Homo sapiens: one gene and its partners. The protein of the gene in region 3 interacts with the protein of the main gene of each other region in a pairwise test. Each region holds a gene or a part of one and is shown on either strand. Other genes may lie near its edges.

What was found. Proteins that work in one complex are often made in the same cells at the same time.
Region 1: the proteins of MCCD1 (region 3) and USP20 interact in binary tests that used the Homo sapiens proteins (3 or more experiments, as listed by UniProt).
Region 2: the proteins of MCCD1 (region 3) and PIH1D2 interact in binary tests that used the Homo sapiens proteins (3 or more experiments, as listed by UniProt).
Region 4: the proteins of MCCD1 (region 3) and MYL7 interact in binary tests that used the Homo sapiens proteins (3 or more experiments, as listed by UniProt).

The regions. Positions count from the first base shown.
Region 1 is NC_000009.12:129,873,458-129,876,957, reverse strand, and holds part of USP20 (ubiquitin carboxyl-terminal hydrolase 20), read right to left. Parts: intron 3,477-3,500; coding exon 3,443-3,476; intron 3,260-3,442; coding exon 3,214-3,259; intron 2,383-3,213; coding exon 2,202-2,382; intron 2,130-2,201; coding exon 2,003-2,129; intron 1,649-2,002; coding exon 1,479-1,648; intron 1,399-1,478; coding exon 1,317-1,398; intron 829-1,316; coding exon 720-828; intron 1-719.
Region 2 is NC_000011.10:112,067,298-112,071,017, forward strand, and holds the end of PIH1D2 (PIH1 domain-containing protein 2), read right to left. Parts: intron 3,405-3,720; coding exon 3,139-3,404; coding exon of another isoform or gene 3,130-3,138; intron 709-3,129; coding exon 574-708; 3' UTR 501-573; downstream 1-500.
Region 3 is NC_000006.12:31,527,670-31,530,732, reverse strand, and holds MCCD1 (mitochondrial coiled-coil domain protein 1 precursor), read right to left. Parts: upstream 1,772-3,063; 5' UTR 1,719-1,771; coding exon 1,548-1,718; intron 987-1,547; coding exon 798-986; 3' UTR 501-797; downstream 1-500. Other genes in the region: spliceosome RNA helicase DDX39B, read left to right, coding at 283-299.
Region 4 is NC_000007.14:44,138,533-44,142,542, reverse strand, and holds MYL7 (myosin regulatory light chain 2, atrial isoform), read left to right. Parts: upstream 1-1,210; 5' UTR 1,211-1,237; coding exon 1,238-1,240; intron 1,241-1,468; coding exon 1,469-1,582; intron 1,583-1,686; coding exon of another isoform or gene 1,687-1,755; coding exon 1,756-1,831; intron 1,832-2,115; coding exon 2,116-2,220; intron 2,221-2,682; coding exon 2,683-2,761; intron 2,762-2,973; coding exon 2,974-3,022; coding exon of another isoform or gene 3,023-3,121; intron 3,122-3,520; coding exon 3,521-3,622; 3' UTR 3,623-3,679; downstream 3,680-4,010.

The sequences.
Region 1 (3,500 bases), on a different chromosome or scaffold from region 3:
GCACCCCAGGGGACCCTGGGCAATCTCTGGAGGTCATTTTGGTTGTCACTAGCACTAGTGGGTAGAGGCCAAGAATGCTGCTAAACATCCTACAATGCACAGGACGGCCCCACAATAAAGAATAATTCAGCCCAAAATAACACAGCCAAGGCTGAGAATGGGATCCATCTACTGGTTCTTTAAGCTCAACAGCACCCGGGCGATGAGGCTTCACTTACTCAAGCCAACCCTCCCACCAGGAAAAGCCCTCCTAGACACCTGGCCATCTAGTTCCCCGCAGAAGACTCCTTTCTTTTCTTTTTCTTTTTTTTTTTTTTTTGAGATGGAGTCTTACTCGGTTGCCCAGGCTGGAGCGCAGTGGCACAATCTCAGCTCACTGAAACCTCCGCCTCCCAGGTTCAAGCGATTATCCTGCCTCAGCCTCCCAAGTAGCTGGGATTACAGGCACCTGCCACCAAGCCCAGCTAATTTTTGTATTTTTAGTAGAGACGGGGTTTTGCCATGTTGGCCAGGCTGGTTTCAAACTCCTGACCTCAAGTGATCTGTTCGTCTCAGCCTCCCAAAGTGCTGGGATTACAGGTGTGAGCCACCATGCCCAGCCTCAAAAGACTGCTTTCAAACTTGCTCAGGGACTGCACAGGATTCTTCTGTCCCCAAGTCCCCAGCTGCCCCAGGCAGAGGCTGGCAGAGCCGCCCCCGCGCCGCCTCGCCGCACGCACCTTGATGAAGGTGTCGATCTCGATCCTCCTGCGCTTGGCCAGTGCCTCGATCTCCACCTGGCAGATGGAGCACACGTACAGGTGGTTCACGGCGGGGCCACCCCCGAATCTGTGCCCAGGGTGGGAGAGAGAGACACGGCCTGAGCGGGGTACCAGGGAGGGGAGAGTGATCACTGCCTTCCACTTCCCCCTCAAGCCATCAGTGCCCCCTCAGCGCTGTCGCAGGCCTGCATGCACCTCTGTGTGAGCACCACAGAGCCTGCAACGGAGCAGCGCGCCCACAGCCCAAGGGAGGTCCTGCTTCAAGGCTGAAGAGCAGATGGCCAACACACTCAGCTGTGCTTCAGCAGATGGCCAACACACTCAGCTGTGCTTCAGCCAGTTTCCTGTCCCTTGCCGCTGGAAGGATCCAAGCGGATTCCCACAAACGACATGTGTCATTCTCCATGAGACAAGTGAAGGCGGCTCTGTGCTGCCCACGTGGAGGCCAGAGTGTGGTGTGGGGTCCTGGTGGCATTCCTTCCCTGCCCTCCCCTCTTTTCCTGCCCAGCTGGGCCCTGGACAGGACGGAGACAAGTTGGCCTCCCAGGCTCTCACCTGTTGTACAGGTGCTCCCAGACGTTCTGGGGCAGGATGACCACCAGGTCGTCGATGTAGTGGTATTTGTGGGGCGGGATGCCTGGGAAGAAGGTACAGGGAGCGAAGCTGTGGCTCGGCCCAGCTGCCCACCCTGCTCTCCCACCACAGGGGGCGCCTCACCTCCGTGGGAGCAGAGGAAGGTCTGGTTGGTGATGGGGCCTGGCTCCGCGAAGGTGTTGAACTTGTTGAGCCACTCGCGGGACACGTAGAACCGCAGCAGGCTGGGCTCCCGCATGGCGGCCAGGGACACCACCTGCTGTCGCTCCCGCATGGCCTCCTCGCTGCTCTTCCTGTGGGGTGAGGAGGGGGCGAGAAGCTGTGCCTGACGGCTGCCACCTTCAGACACATGCAGAGCCCCCATCCCAGTGCACCTCGGGCTACCGGCCCTGTCCACCACCTCCTGGGTCCTTCACGGGTCCTGGACATGTGAGCAGCCCCCTGTGCCGCCAGCCAGGGCCCTGGAGAAGGCTCCAAGCTGCCTTCCTGGGTTCCCCACAGCAGCCAGAGGGCTGTTTCTTAACAATCCAAGTCCTTACTTCCCTGGCTTAATCCAGGCGCTGTCCCCTACACACACCCAGAAGGCCCATGGGTCCCAGGGGACGGGGATGGTGAGGTTCCTCCACCAGGCCTGGCCCAGCGCCCACCTGTAGAAGAGTACGTAGCCCTCGGCGTTCTGCACCACCGTCTCGTGGACTTCTGTGACGTACTGGTCATCAAACTCGTACCACTGCCCATTGATCACGTTCTGGCAGTAGGCGATGTAGTGCCCACCTGCGGCGGCAGAGCAGACGGGTCACAGGGATCCTAGCGGATGGGGACGGCAGGGGAGGGGACATGACTCACTGCCTGCCGTGCCGTGGTGGCAGATGACCGAGAGGAGGTCGTAGGTGGTGATCTGGGATGTGCACTCCTTGGCAAGGAAGGGGCGCAGGTCGAGCCCCTCGAGGGGGAAGGAGACGTGGCTGTTGATCTTGAATGAGTACATCACCTCGTGCCGAAAGCGCTTTAGGTGAATGCACAGGATCTGCGGGGACAGAGAGAGCGCCGGTCATCTAGGAAGAAATGATGCGGGCCCTCGCAGCCTTGCCCACGGGCCCAGGACAGCTGATGGGATCATGCAAGCTGACTCCATTGGAACAAATCCAAGAGTTCCACGTGGGGGCCAGACTGGGCTCGCTCTAAGTCACACAGATCACTCCCAGCTCCACTGCTGAGAACTGGACCCCAAGAGCTGCAATGAGCCATCAAGTTTACCAGTTCTGTCGGCACTACCTTTGAGAAGCCACAAAGCCTCCCCGAGCCACCACAGCCCCAACCTGGGCCCCCTCTGCCAGGGCCCTCTCCTCTTTGCTCCAGCCACACGTGCCTTCCTTGGTGCGGACAAGCCTGCTCCTGCACTGGGGTTTTGTCTGTTCCTTCTGTGCCTTCCATCCACGACGCTGACACCAGCCTACACCCTCCAGGCCCCACTCAGACGTTACTCCTCAGAAAGACCCCTGGCAACAGCCCCAGCTGGACCAGCTCTCCTCCCGCCACTCTGCAGCTGGCAGGAGCCATAGCTGTCTCACTGGGGGTGGTAACCCAGTGTCCCACACACCTGCCTCCCATTGGGCCCTCATACAACATGTTAGACAACATGTGCTGAGGCTACCGAGAGAGGGCACCAAGTCACAGTTGGAAAAATGTGCCCCCTGCCAACCCTTCCCAGAGGTTTCTCAGCCAAAGCTATGGAGTCTCCACGGCCCCTGCAGCACAGAAGTGCCCGAGCAGTGGAGCAGGCTCAGCCCCTGCCTGGTGTGTGCTGGTGTGCATCCCGAGATAGCTGAGGAGGAGGCTGCCGAGGCCACTGGCTCACCTCGGGCAACCGCAGGACTTTGCAGTACTTCACTCCGTTCCGCAGCCTGGGGAGGAAGCACGAGCCAGCATCAGTGTCCGGCATCAGGGCCAGGGGCCAGGGAAGCAGCCCTCCACCCGGCTCCCTTCTGGGAAGGCAGGATTATAGGGGGCTCTCTGCAGGAACCCAAGGGGAATATGTAGGGCACAGAAACGGCAGTTAGGGAGAAGGCGGGGGAAGGCTCACTTACTTCTTACACCGCTCACAGCTGTACATGTTGTCACCTAGGGCAGTAAAACAAAGGGTCA
Region 2 (3,720 bases), on a different chromosome or scaffold from region 3:
TTTAAAACAAGTGTGTCATAGCAATAGTTTTTAATTCTGGTTGATGTTTATTTGAGAAGAAGTGAGTTAAAAAATATAAGACATGGCCAGGCATGGTGTCTCATGCCTGTAATCCCAGCACTTTGGGAGGCCGAGGCAGGTGGATCACCTGAGGTCAGGAGTCCAAGACCAGCCTAGTCAACATGGTGAAACCCCGTCTCTACTAAAAATACAAAAAAATAGCTGGGCGTGGTGGTGCATGCCTGTAATCCCAGCTACTCGGGAGGCTGAGGCAGAATCGCTTGAGCCCATGAGGCGGAGGTTGCAGTGAGCTGAGATCGTGCCACTGCACTCCAGCCTGGGCAACAAGAGCGAAACTCCGTCTCAAAAAAAAAAAAAAAAAAAAAAAATATATATATATATATATATATATATATTTGACATAACAGGTGAAGAGAAAATCTCAGTCAAAATGAACTTAGAAAATAATGGAATTGGTGTTTAAGATAAACTACTACCTCTTTAGCCAAAATGAAGGTCCTTTAATTCACATGACTTTAGCACTGAAAACCCAAAACATATGATGCTCTTCTTTCACACCAAAGGCATTGTGATGATTAGCGTGGATTTTTCTTTGATAAATTTTGCTGTGGTCATTTCAGTATCAATAAGTTTTGGAAGATTCAGATGTAATCTGTACTTCTCAGATACTTCAATCAATAAATCATCCTAAGAATAATAAACCAAGAGATTTATTTCCTGCTTAAAATTTGGGATACTAACTTATTGTTCCCAGTTATTCACTCCTTTGCCATAAAAAGATCCCATTTGTTGCCATGTGACTTGGAATGAGCAAAAAATTACTGTTGTAAATCCCTTAGATTTTAAGGTGGTTACTGCTGCTCACTACATCACACGTTAACTGATACAGTACCACAGTAGAGTGTTGCCATCCTAAATTATGTGGCTGACCAGCAAACAGCAAGGAAACTTATTGGAGCCTGGAAAGGTAGTGATCCATGTTTCATAATGATGAAGCCTTTAGTGAAACTATCACAGTAATTTGGATGATAAATACTCTGTGCCTAGTTGATTTGTGGCTTTAGGTGAAGAAGTGGGAAAATAGATGGTAATGTGTTGGTTCTGTTCACTACATTTAACAGGATATTACAAGAAAGATGAGCTTAGAATGGACCATTTTGCAAGTCAAATTAAAAGGGAATTGGCTGAGTGCGGTGGCTCACACCTGTAATCCCAGCACTTTGGGAGGCTGAGGGCAGGTGGATCACTTGAGGCCAGGAGTTCGAGACCAACATGGGCAACATGGCAAAACCCCGTCTCTACTAAAAATACAAAAATTAGCCAGGCTTGGTGGCACATGCCTGTAATCCCAGCTACTCAGGAGGCTGAGGCAGGAGAATCGCTTTAACCTGGGAGGCAGAGGTTGCAGTAAGCTGAGATGGTGCCACTGCACTCCAGCCTGGGCAATAGAGTGAGACTGTCTCAAAATAAATAAATAAATAAAAAGGACTTTATAGAGCCCCAAGATTCCAAGACTCAATGACTGAAAAGTGGAACTAATTTTTATTTTCAGCAAGTAAGGGATAAAATTGAGAAATTACTTTTATCAACCAAGCTGATTAAGGCAATATAGAGGCAAAGATTAAATCTTTATGCTCTTTGTTAAAACCTCTGAATTTTTTTTGTTTTTTTTTTTTTTTGTTTTTTTTTTTTTGAGGGGAGACAGAGTCTCGCTCTGTTGCCCAGGCTGGAGTGCAGTGGCTCGATCTTGGCTCACTGCAACTTCCGCCTCCCGGGTTCAAGCAGTTCTCCTGCCTCAGCCTCCTGAATAGCTGGGACTACAGGTGCCCACCACCACGCCCGGCTGATGTTTTTTTTGTATTTTAGTAGAGATAGGGTTTCACCATGTTGCCCAGGCTGGTCTCGAACCCCTGAGCTCAGGCAATCCACCCCCCTTCGGCCTCCCAAAATCCTAGGATTACAGGCATGAGTCACCGTACCCAGCCAAAACCTCTGACTGTACTAAGGTGGACTTCAGTAAATCCTTACATTTGGCTAAAATGACAGCAATTAAGTCTAAAGAGACAGGTAAGTCTTGAAATATGGGCAATGTCTAAAAAGGAATTATGGGTATCACTGACTGGAATCAAAATGCTACCAGCCTGGACTAAAAGAAACTGCCTTCAAAATTTAAAACAATCCTTTGAGCCCCAAGATTCCATGAGCAGGAACCAGGCTGAAGAGGCTACTTAGCATATAAGAATGGCACATTCTCCGATACTCTTCAGATGTGGCCAAGGTGGATAGTGGGAAAGGGAAAAAAAAAGAAAACATCTTCCTGAAGACTGAAGCTAAAGGTCGTGGAAAAAAATGGAACTGGGGAGCTAGGTAATTACAGAACTTTCTCAAGGAACCTAAGTAAGAACATCCTCTACCTCCAGAAAAGGAGCCCTCACAATGTCTGCCTACTAGGATTTCAGAATTGCTGTGCACCAGTAACTGCAGTGTGCCTCTTATTTTTCCCATTTCTGAATTGAGATGGTTAATTACGGTTATCTTCTCCCCATTCCACATTGCATGACAGATGGGACTGAGGGAGTACATAACTTTTTTTACATGTCTTAGTCCATGGTTCAAGAGGAAGAGAAAGCAAAATTCTGTCCTTTGGAGTCTGATACTGGGATTGGAGGTGTTTTCCTTCCAGAAAGAAGCAAATATTTGCAACCAAGAGTGTAGACTGGTAGACTGTAGGACTGACTCTAACTATTTGCTCTTCTGTAAGAGGATAGTACGTTTACCCTGCCATATGACTTCCTGTGACTGTGAGAATACACTTCTCAGTCCTACTGATGTAGAACTGGCCTTGTGACTTACTTTGGCCAGTGGAGCGTGAGTAGAAGTGATATCATGAAGTGTCATGTCTGAGTAGAAGTATTACGATCCACTGCATGGTTTGATCATTCTATTTTCCCTTTGCTGAGATGTGAATGGCACATCTCAGAAGGGAATTGCTCCTTCACCGGGTAACCTGAGCAAATCATTGTAAGCCCCTGAAATTATGTAGTTTGTTACTGTGGCATAATATATGTTAGTGAATGCTGGCCAATACAAATTTACAGTGTTATCTATTCAACTTACCTCAGAAACACTAAGGTCACAGAGAGAGACAGAATTAATACCAGGTAATTCAACTTTCAACTCAATTTTCAGAGGTTTCTCACTGTGATCATGCACAATTTTTAGTTCATAGGCTGGCATCTTCATCTCCACCTGGATTTCAGTACTGGAAATCTCTTCTATCAGACACACTGCTTTGCCTGAAACTTGGTCTTTTGGCAGTAACAGTTGAGGAAAGTGATCTGGATTGCTCATAGTACTGCTTCGTATCTGTCCAAGAGTTAGTTCTTTATGAAAAAAAGGGTGGAGGGGAGATAAAAAATAAATCTACAACATAAAATACTATGAGCTATAATATATGTGGTGTTAGTAGAGATGGTAGATAAAGCTGCAGTTAAATTAGTTTGGGAATCAAGCCAAAAGAATCTTAAACCAAAGAATTTGATTGAAAATTTTTCAGGATTTAAAAATCAAGGATATGATATTTCTAATATTTAATATTTGCATTTTTCTATCTTAAGTTTTTCACCTTTTAAAATAGAGATTTCTAGTTTGCAAAATGTATACAGGATCCAAAAACATCTTAAAGCAGTTTAATTTTCC
Region 3 (3,063 bases):
GTGTGTTTGTCCGAAATCCCATCACATAGGTCATGGGCATCTGATGCATAATGGACACTTGACTGGTTCATGCCCCCTGGTCTTTGATGCTGTGTTGGGATGTTTTTCTGACCTTTATGTGGGGTGTCTTGTCTTCTCTCATCATATTACATCCCTTCCCTCACCCCCACGTCCGTCCTCTGAACCCAGGCAGTACACCAGTGTCTGCATGTGTGCCGTGTGTTCCTGCCTCACTTTCCCCTTTTCATGCCTTATTCTGACCATGCTACGTTTTCTTCTCAGTTGAACAGACACGGTAGAAGACTCGCCCATTTTGGAATGTGACCGTCTGTCCTTCAGGAGAGGACACCAGGGTGGGGGTGAAGGAGACACTACTGCCCCCACCCCTGACAGCCCCCACCCCATGGCTTCCATCTTTTGCATCACCACCACTCCTGAACCCCCATTTCTGATTTGTCAGAATTTTTTTTTAACAAAACTAAAAATGAAACACATGTGTCTGTGGTATCTATAAGTGCTTCGTCCCTTTATTGTATTTGGGGTGAGGTTATTTTAGGGCATGGTCCAGGGTGAATTCCTATAAGGCCTGGGTGCCCTGCCTGCTGTGAGATCAAAGGGGAATGGGACTAAGACTGCAGAGCCCTGGCTCCCCCACTGCCTGCCAATTGCCTGCGCTTTGTGGTCTCTTCCACTTTCTCTGGCCTGGGAAGACGCTGGGGTGTTTATGATCCCAAGGCTCCTGGTGGGTGGTGCGTGTATTTTCAGCGCCGGAGGGTGCTGTGGGCACTGGGGGAAACTTAGGCGCCTCCTCCAAGGCTCTCTTGGTGCCTCCTCATCTGTTCCTTCAGCTTCTGGATCTTGAGCACCAGGGCTTGGGCCTCCCAGGCTCCCTCCTGCCCTTCAAGGAGGGCCTGGTACAGCTCCAGCTGCTGCTCCAACAACTCTTCAGCTCGGGCCAGCTCAGCTGTGCGGTGGGTCCCAGGGCCCTGGTCAGGGAATTAAGGGAGGGAGCATCAGCCAGGGCAGGGGGCTGAGGCCCTGGGAAGCTTTGTTGCAGGCTGTGGCTGGAAGTGAGAAATTCCACCTTCCCTATTCGTTTTTGAACCGGTCGTTTAAGGACACCTGTACTGAGAAGGCCAGGTAGCTTCCTGTCTTGGGCATAGGCCTCTGGGTGGTAGTAGGGGGAGCAAATAGAGTTCCCTGGCCCAGGGGCTGTAACTGGCTTCCTTGAACAAGGATATGGGGTCACTGGAAAGAGGATCAGCTGCTCCTCCCCGCTAAGAAATAATTAACTGTTAGGTGAGGGGGAATAGATCCTGTTCAAGGACTTTGTGGACTGTGCTGTTGTGGGTGGGGGTGGGGTGAGGGAAGGGAACCCTGAGGTCTGGGCTGGGGGAGGTGGGGAGAGGAGTTGGTAGCTGAACTAAGAAAAGAGCTGCAGGGGTAGGCATGGTGTGGGGTGGTGCAGGGTGGGATTGAGGGTTTTTTTTTCCCACACCCCAGTGTAAATTCTCACACCCTCTGTTCCTACCTGTGGTGCCACTTACCCTGGGAGGGGACGTCATCTTCCCATTTCCTCTGGAGCTGGTCTGCTCTTCCATGCTTGCTTTGGGGTTTTGGGAGCAGCACCCATGGGAGCCCTGGGGTGCCAAGGACCAGGAGGGCAGAAGGAGGCGAAGGAAATGGTACCGAGAGAGCCAGGGCAGAGGGAGGACCATGGCGGGTGACCTGGCAGGGAGCTGTGTGAGCTGTCCAACGGCCACCAGGAACTGGTTCGCTCCAGGACTTGGCCTCACTTGAGTGCCTGGCCCTGCCCAGGCCCCAGCCCCCAGCCCTGCCCCTGCCCCTGCCCCACTCTGCCCCACGTCTCTCCCAGCCTGGCCCCAGACAGAGTCCAGGAACAACTCCTGTTCCTGATGTGAAAAATGTCCCTGCCAGTTTAGGCAGAACTTGCTTTAGAGCACTGGTGCCCAGCCTACCACAGGTCTGTGATTTTTTTTTTTTGATCTAGTGTTTATTAGGTATGAATTTTACAAACATTAGCGGTAGCTGTGGAGCTGGAGAGTATTGCACCTTCTCCAAGCTGCATGGCGAGAACCACCAATAGTGTGGTAGAACTTACAGCCCTTTCCAAGGCCGTGGCTCTCTTGGCCTGCAGATAGCCTACGCATCTCCCTATGCTTGTTGTGGACCACTGGGTGTCAGGTTTCCTTCTGATAGTGTTATGGAATGGATCAACTAGGATAGCCTCAAAAACTTTGTATGTGGAATCTTTAACCAGCCCAGTGAGAATTCAGGACTCAGAGCCCCACAGTGGCATCCAGCTTGCTCTTCTGTAACAGACTGAAGGCTTTAAGCAAACTAGCTGGTTAACACCATGATAGACAGGCTTGCTGTTAAGTTGCCTTCTTAGGAACTAGATTTTCAGCCACCGTGGCGCTTATATGTAACATAACCTTGCTTGGCTGTAGCCCAGTAGCGTGCTTTATTGGGCTGGGTGGGGCGGGGATCCCTGTGGAGAGCAGAGAGCTGGTGGTACTGCCAGCAGCGGACCCTCAGAAGAAAGCTCATGACATCAGACTGCTTCTTCCATAGCTTCTGGATGTACTTGTATGCACCATCTTGGTTTACCCAGTGGCTGCTGCCAGACAGAAAGGAAAGGCTACCACAGGTCTTGTGTCTTTTTTTTTTTTTTTTTTTTTTTGAGACGGAGTCTCGCTCTGTTGCCCAGGCTGGAGTGCAGTGGCGCAATCTGGGCTCACTGCAAGCTCTGCCTCCCGGGTTCACGCCATTCTCCTGCCTCACCCTCCCGAGGAGCTGGGACTACAGGTGCTCGCCACTACGCCCGGCTAATTTTTTGTATTTTTAGTGGAGACGGGGTTTCACCGTGTTAGCCAGGGTGGTCTCGATCTCCTGACCTCATGATCCGCCCGTCTTGGCCTCCCAAAGTGCTGGGATTACAGGCGTGAGCCACCGCACCCGGCATTTCTTAACACTGTCTTTTCTCACTTCACTCTGCAAGGTAGGAATTACCTCACTGGTTTGCACCTGAGGAAACTGGCT
Region 4 (4,010 bases), on a different chromosome or scaffold from region 3:
TGCTTGGGAGGCTGAGGAACAAGAATGGCTTGAACCCGGGAGGCAGAGGTGGCAGTGAGCTGAGATCGCGCCACTGCACTCCAGCCTGTGCGAGAGTGAGACTCTGTCTCAAAAAAAAAAAAGGGAATTTAAGAAATTTAAAAGAAAACTCTTGTTATATAAAAAGGGTATTGGGTCTGACAGATAAGAGCTCCTGCACTCTACCAGCCAGCTACTGACAGACATAGGTCTGGCTCCAGTGGAGGGGCAGCAGCCAGTGAGCCCAGCCTGGGGTGGCCCACTCCTGCTGCCTCCAGGATGTCCCCTGTTTCCCCAGCCCCTCTGCTGTGCCCTCGGCCCCAGAAGCTGGCGAGACTGCTTCTCTGGAACAGCATCACGCAGGCCTGCCCATCGGCCCACTGTGCACCAGGCCTTCTGGGGATACAGATGTCAACCAGGTGGGGTGCTCAGGAGGGGCACAGAAGCCAGGAATGACAAACACATCAGCCACCAGGCAAATGGGAAATGTGCCCCAGAAGCTCCCTGCTGAGGATGTTAGGGAGAGCATTCTGAAGTAGTGTGGTTGAGATGAGGCTTGAGGAAGGCAAGGCTCCAAACAGCAGGGCAGACTGGGAGCAAGGTAGACTGCATGGGAGGGCAGCTGATGGAGCTCCTTAACCCTCTGGAATTGCCCCAAAGCCAAGCAAAGTGTTCTTCTTGGGGTCACAGCTAGCTCAGGGATGCCTTCTGCCCCTTGGTCAGAGGGGCAAAAGGTCAGAGCCTAGGGTCACCAAAACCTCTGGGAAGCCCCGGGGGTCTCAGGCCACAGACCATCCTCAGAACTACACACTGCCCTCCCATGCCTGGCGGGGGCCCTGGACTGGCCCTCACCAGCTGTCTTCTTGCACTGGCCAGGGTTCTGGCTGGACTGGCAAGGAGGGGTGGTCAGATACAGGAGTAACTGGATCCCTTCATCAGGACCTAGGGTGGTGAGAGCTTTGAGCCTGCTCTGCTCCAGGCAGACATTGTGTCTGGCCCTGCCAGGATGGATAGACAGCAGGATGTTACACGTTGAGGACATGAAGGTCATCAGGAATGTGGCTGGAATCTGTTAGGCCTCCCCCAGCCCAGGCGGGGGCTGCCAAGTTTGGGCCTATCCTCTGTTCCTCTCCTTATTTGGACCTTCAGGTGATAAGGCTGAGACATAAAGGAGGCTGGGCCCTGCCACCACGACAGCAGCCACACCTCTGCAGAGAGAATGGTGAGTGCCTGCTGGGGAAGAAAGGCTAGCGGTCTCCCAGGTGCTGGCCTTTGGGCTGGGGGAGCAGAGTTTTCTGTGCTTGTGTTGGGTTGAGGGTGGTCCCCAGGGAGAGGAAGAGGATCCTGGCCCTGGCTCTCCTGGGAATGCTCTGGGACTGTGCATGATGGGTGGGGTGGGGAGACTCTGAGGAGTTGGGGAGAGGACCCCTCCCTACTCACAGTGTTGCAGGCCAGCAGGAAGGCGGGGACCCGGGGCAAGGTGGCAGCCACCAAGCAGGCCCAACGTGGTTCTTCCAACGTCTTTTCCATGTTTGAACAAGCCCAGATACAGGAGTTCAAAGAAGTGAGTGCCCACTCCCAGTAGCCTCAGATCCCATCCTGGCCCCCCCACCCCACCCCACATACATACCCCCCTTCTACCCTGACCTTGCCTCTCACACCACCCAGGTCTCTCCCCCACCTCCCACCTTCCCTAGAGCTGGGGGCTGCTCCCACCTGAAGGCCCCCATCCCACAGGCCTTCAGCTGTATCGACCAGAATCGTGATGGCATCATCTGCAAGGCAGACCTGAGGGAGACCTACTCCCAGCTGGGTGCGTGCACCCACCTCCCACCCTGCGCACTGGGGTCCCTACTCTGAGCTGCTGGGCGGGTGGGAGTGGCTGGGGGGACAGGACTCTGCTCCCCTGCTTCCCCTCCTCCCCGTCTCCTCACACTGCCCTTCCCCCCTTGTCACGCCTTGCTTCCACTTCACCTTCCCGACCCACAGCTGCCTCTGCCCCTCCAGCCCCTGTGGCCAGGATGGAGGGAGGGCGGCCTGGGCCTTCTGGGGGACACCCAGGGTCCCTGTGTGCACCTCATGCCCCACCCCCACCAGGGAAGGTGAGTGTCCCAGAGGAGGAGCTGGACGCCATGCTGCAAGAGGGCAAGGGCCCCATCAACTTCACCGTCTTCCTCACGCTCTTTGGGGAGAAGCTCAATGGTGAGCCTGGGACAGAGCTGGGCACCCTTGGCCAGGCAGGGAGCCTGCACCCTGCCTGAACCCCACCTGAACCCTGCCTGAACCCCACCTGAACCTTACATGAACCCCACCTGAACCCTAACTGAACCCCACCTGGACCCACCTGGACTCTTCCTGGCCATGACCCATTCCAAGCACATCCTCTGCCCCAGAATCCCATGTGCACTGGTCACCCCAGTGCTGACTTGGAGCCAGGAAATGTGCCTTCAGCCCCCACCCCCAAATTCCAGTCTCCCAGCCAAGCTGCCCGCCTCAGGAGGATGACCATTCCCAGCCCCACTGATCCCCGAGAAACATTTTATGTTAGGGAATACCCCCACCTCTTCTGGGATGTGGGAGGCTCCTCATGCAGCCCAGTTCCTCCTGCGGGGGACCTGGGATGCTGGAGACATGGATGCTCACCTGGCTGCCTCGGCCTTCCAGGGACAGACCCCGAGGAAGCCATCCTGAGTGCCTTCCGCATGTTTGACCCCAGCGGCAAAGGGGTGGTGAACAAGGATGAGTAAGTATGGGCCCAGCCAGATGAGGAGCACCGTGGTGGAAGCAGAGAGCGGGGTGAGGCCCCTAGTGAGGGGGGCTGCCTGTGCTTCGGGGCCTTACACTGCTCTTTGGGGTGCAGCCAACCCTTCCCTGCGCCATGGGAGCCTCCGTACCCACCTTCCCTGTGCAGTCACTCCCCCGCAGTCTCCTGCTCAGACCCTCCTCACCCCCCAGGTTCAAGCAGCTTCTCCTGACCCAGGCAGACAAGTTCTCTCCAGCTGAGGTGAGGCTGCCCAGCCCCTTCAATACTCATCCCCAGCACCTTCTCTGGGCCTTCACCCATGACCCAGAGCCCAGTACCAGTGAGGCAGTTGCTGGAAGGGTGAGCCGAGGGCCCTTCTGGAGGAGGTGCCATCTCTGTTGAGACCTAGAGGGTAAAGATGTGGAGTCAGAAAAGAGGGCAGGGTGCGCCAGGCAGGGAGACTGTGCACAGACCTGGGGGGAAGTGGATAGGGAGAGGTTTCGTACACTCGGGGTGGGCCTGTGCCTGTGGCTGGAGGGGCGTCCTTTGCCTCTTGGCCCACATTTGCACTGACTCCTCACTCTGCCCAGAGTCAGCCAAGAGAAAAACATTAACCCAGAGTCTGGGGTCTAGGGTTGAAAAGCTAAGGCAAAAAGCACAGATGCAGGGGGCAGACAGAAAGGCCACAGGACTCAGGTGAGGTCTCTGCCGGGCTGGGCCAGGAGCCAGGGGACTGCCACTCACCAGTGTCCCCTGCAGGTGGAGCAGATGTTCGCCCTGACACCCATGGACCTGGCGGGGAACATCGACTACAAGTCACTGTGCTACATCATCACCCATGGAGACGAGAAAGAGGAATGAGGGGCAGGGCCAGGCCCACGGGGGGGCACCTCAATAAACTCTGTTGCAAAATTGGAATTGCTGTGGTGTCTTGTCTGTGACAGATGGGTTGGGGACCAGCCAAGGGGGATCCCAGGGTCTCAGTGCGCACATCACCATGATCATGGCCACCATCTACCTCCTGGGAGCTGGCCCCTCGCCAGCTCACCTTGATTCACTCCCATGATGCCAAGTGAAGTGTGAACTATGATCATGCCTAGTTTACAGATGAGGACACTGAGGCCCAGAAAGTGTGAGCATCTTACCAAGGCCAGCCCTCTAGAAGAGGAGATGGTGGGATTTACACCACCTCCACCAAGCCCAGGAATGAGCCACAAAGTGGGCACTGCCCAGCTACTTGGGGCTGTGC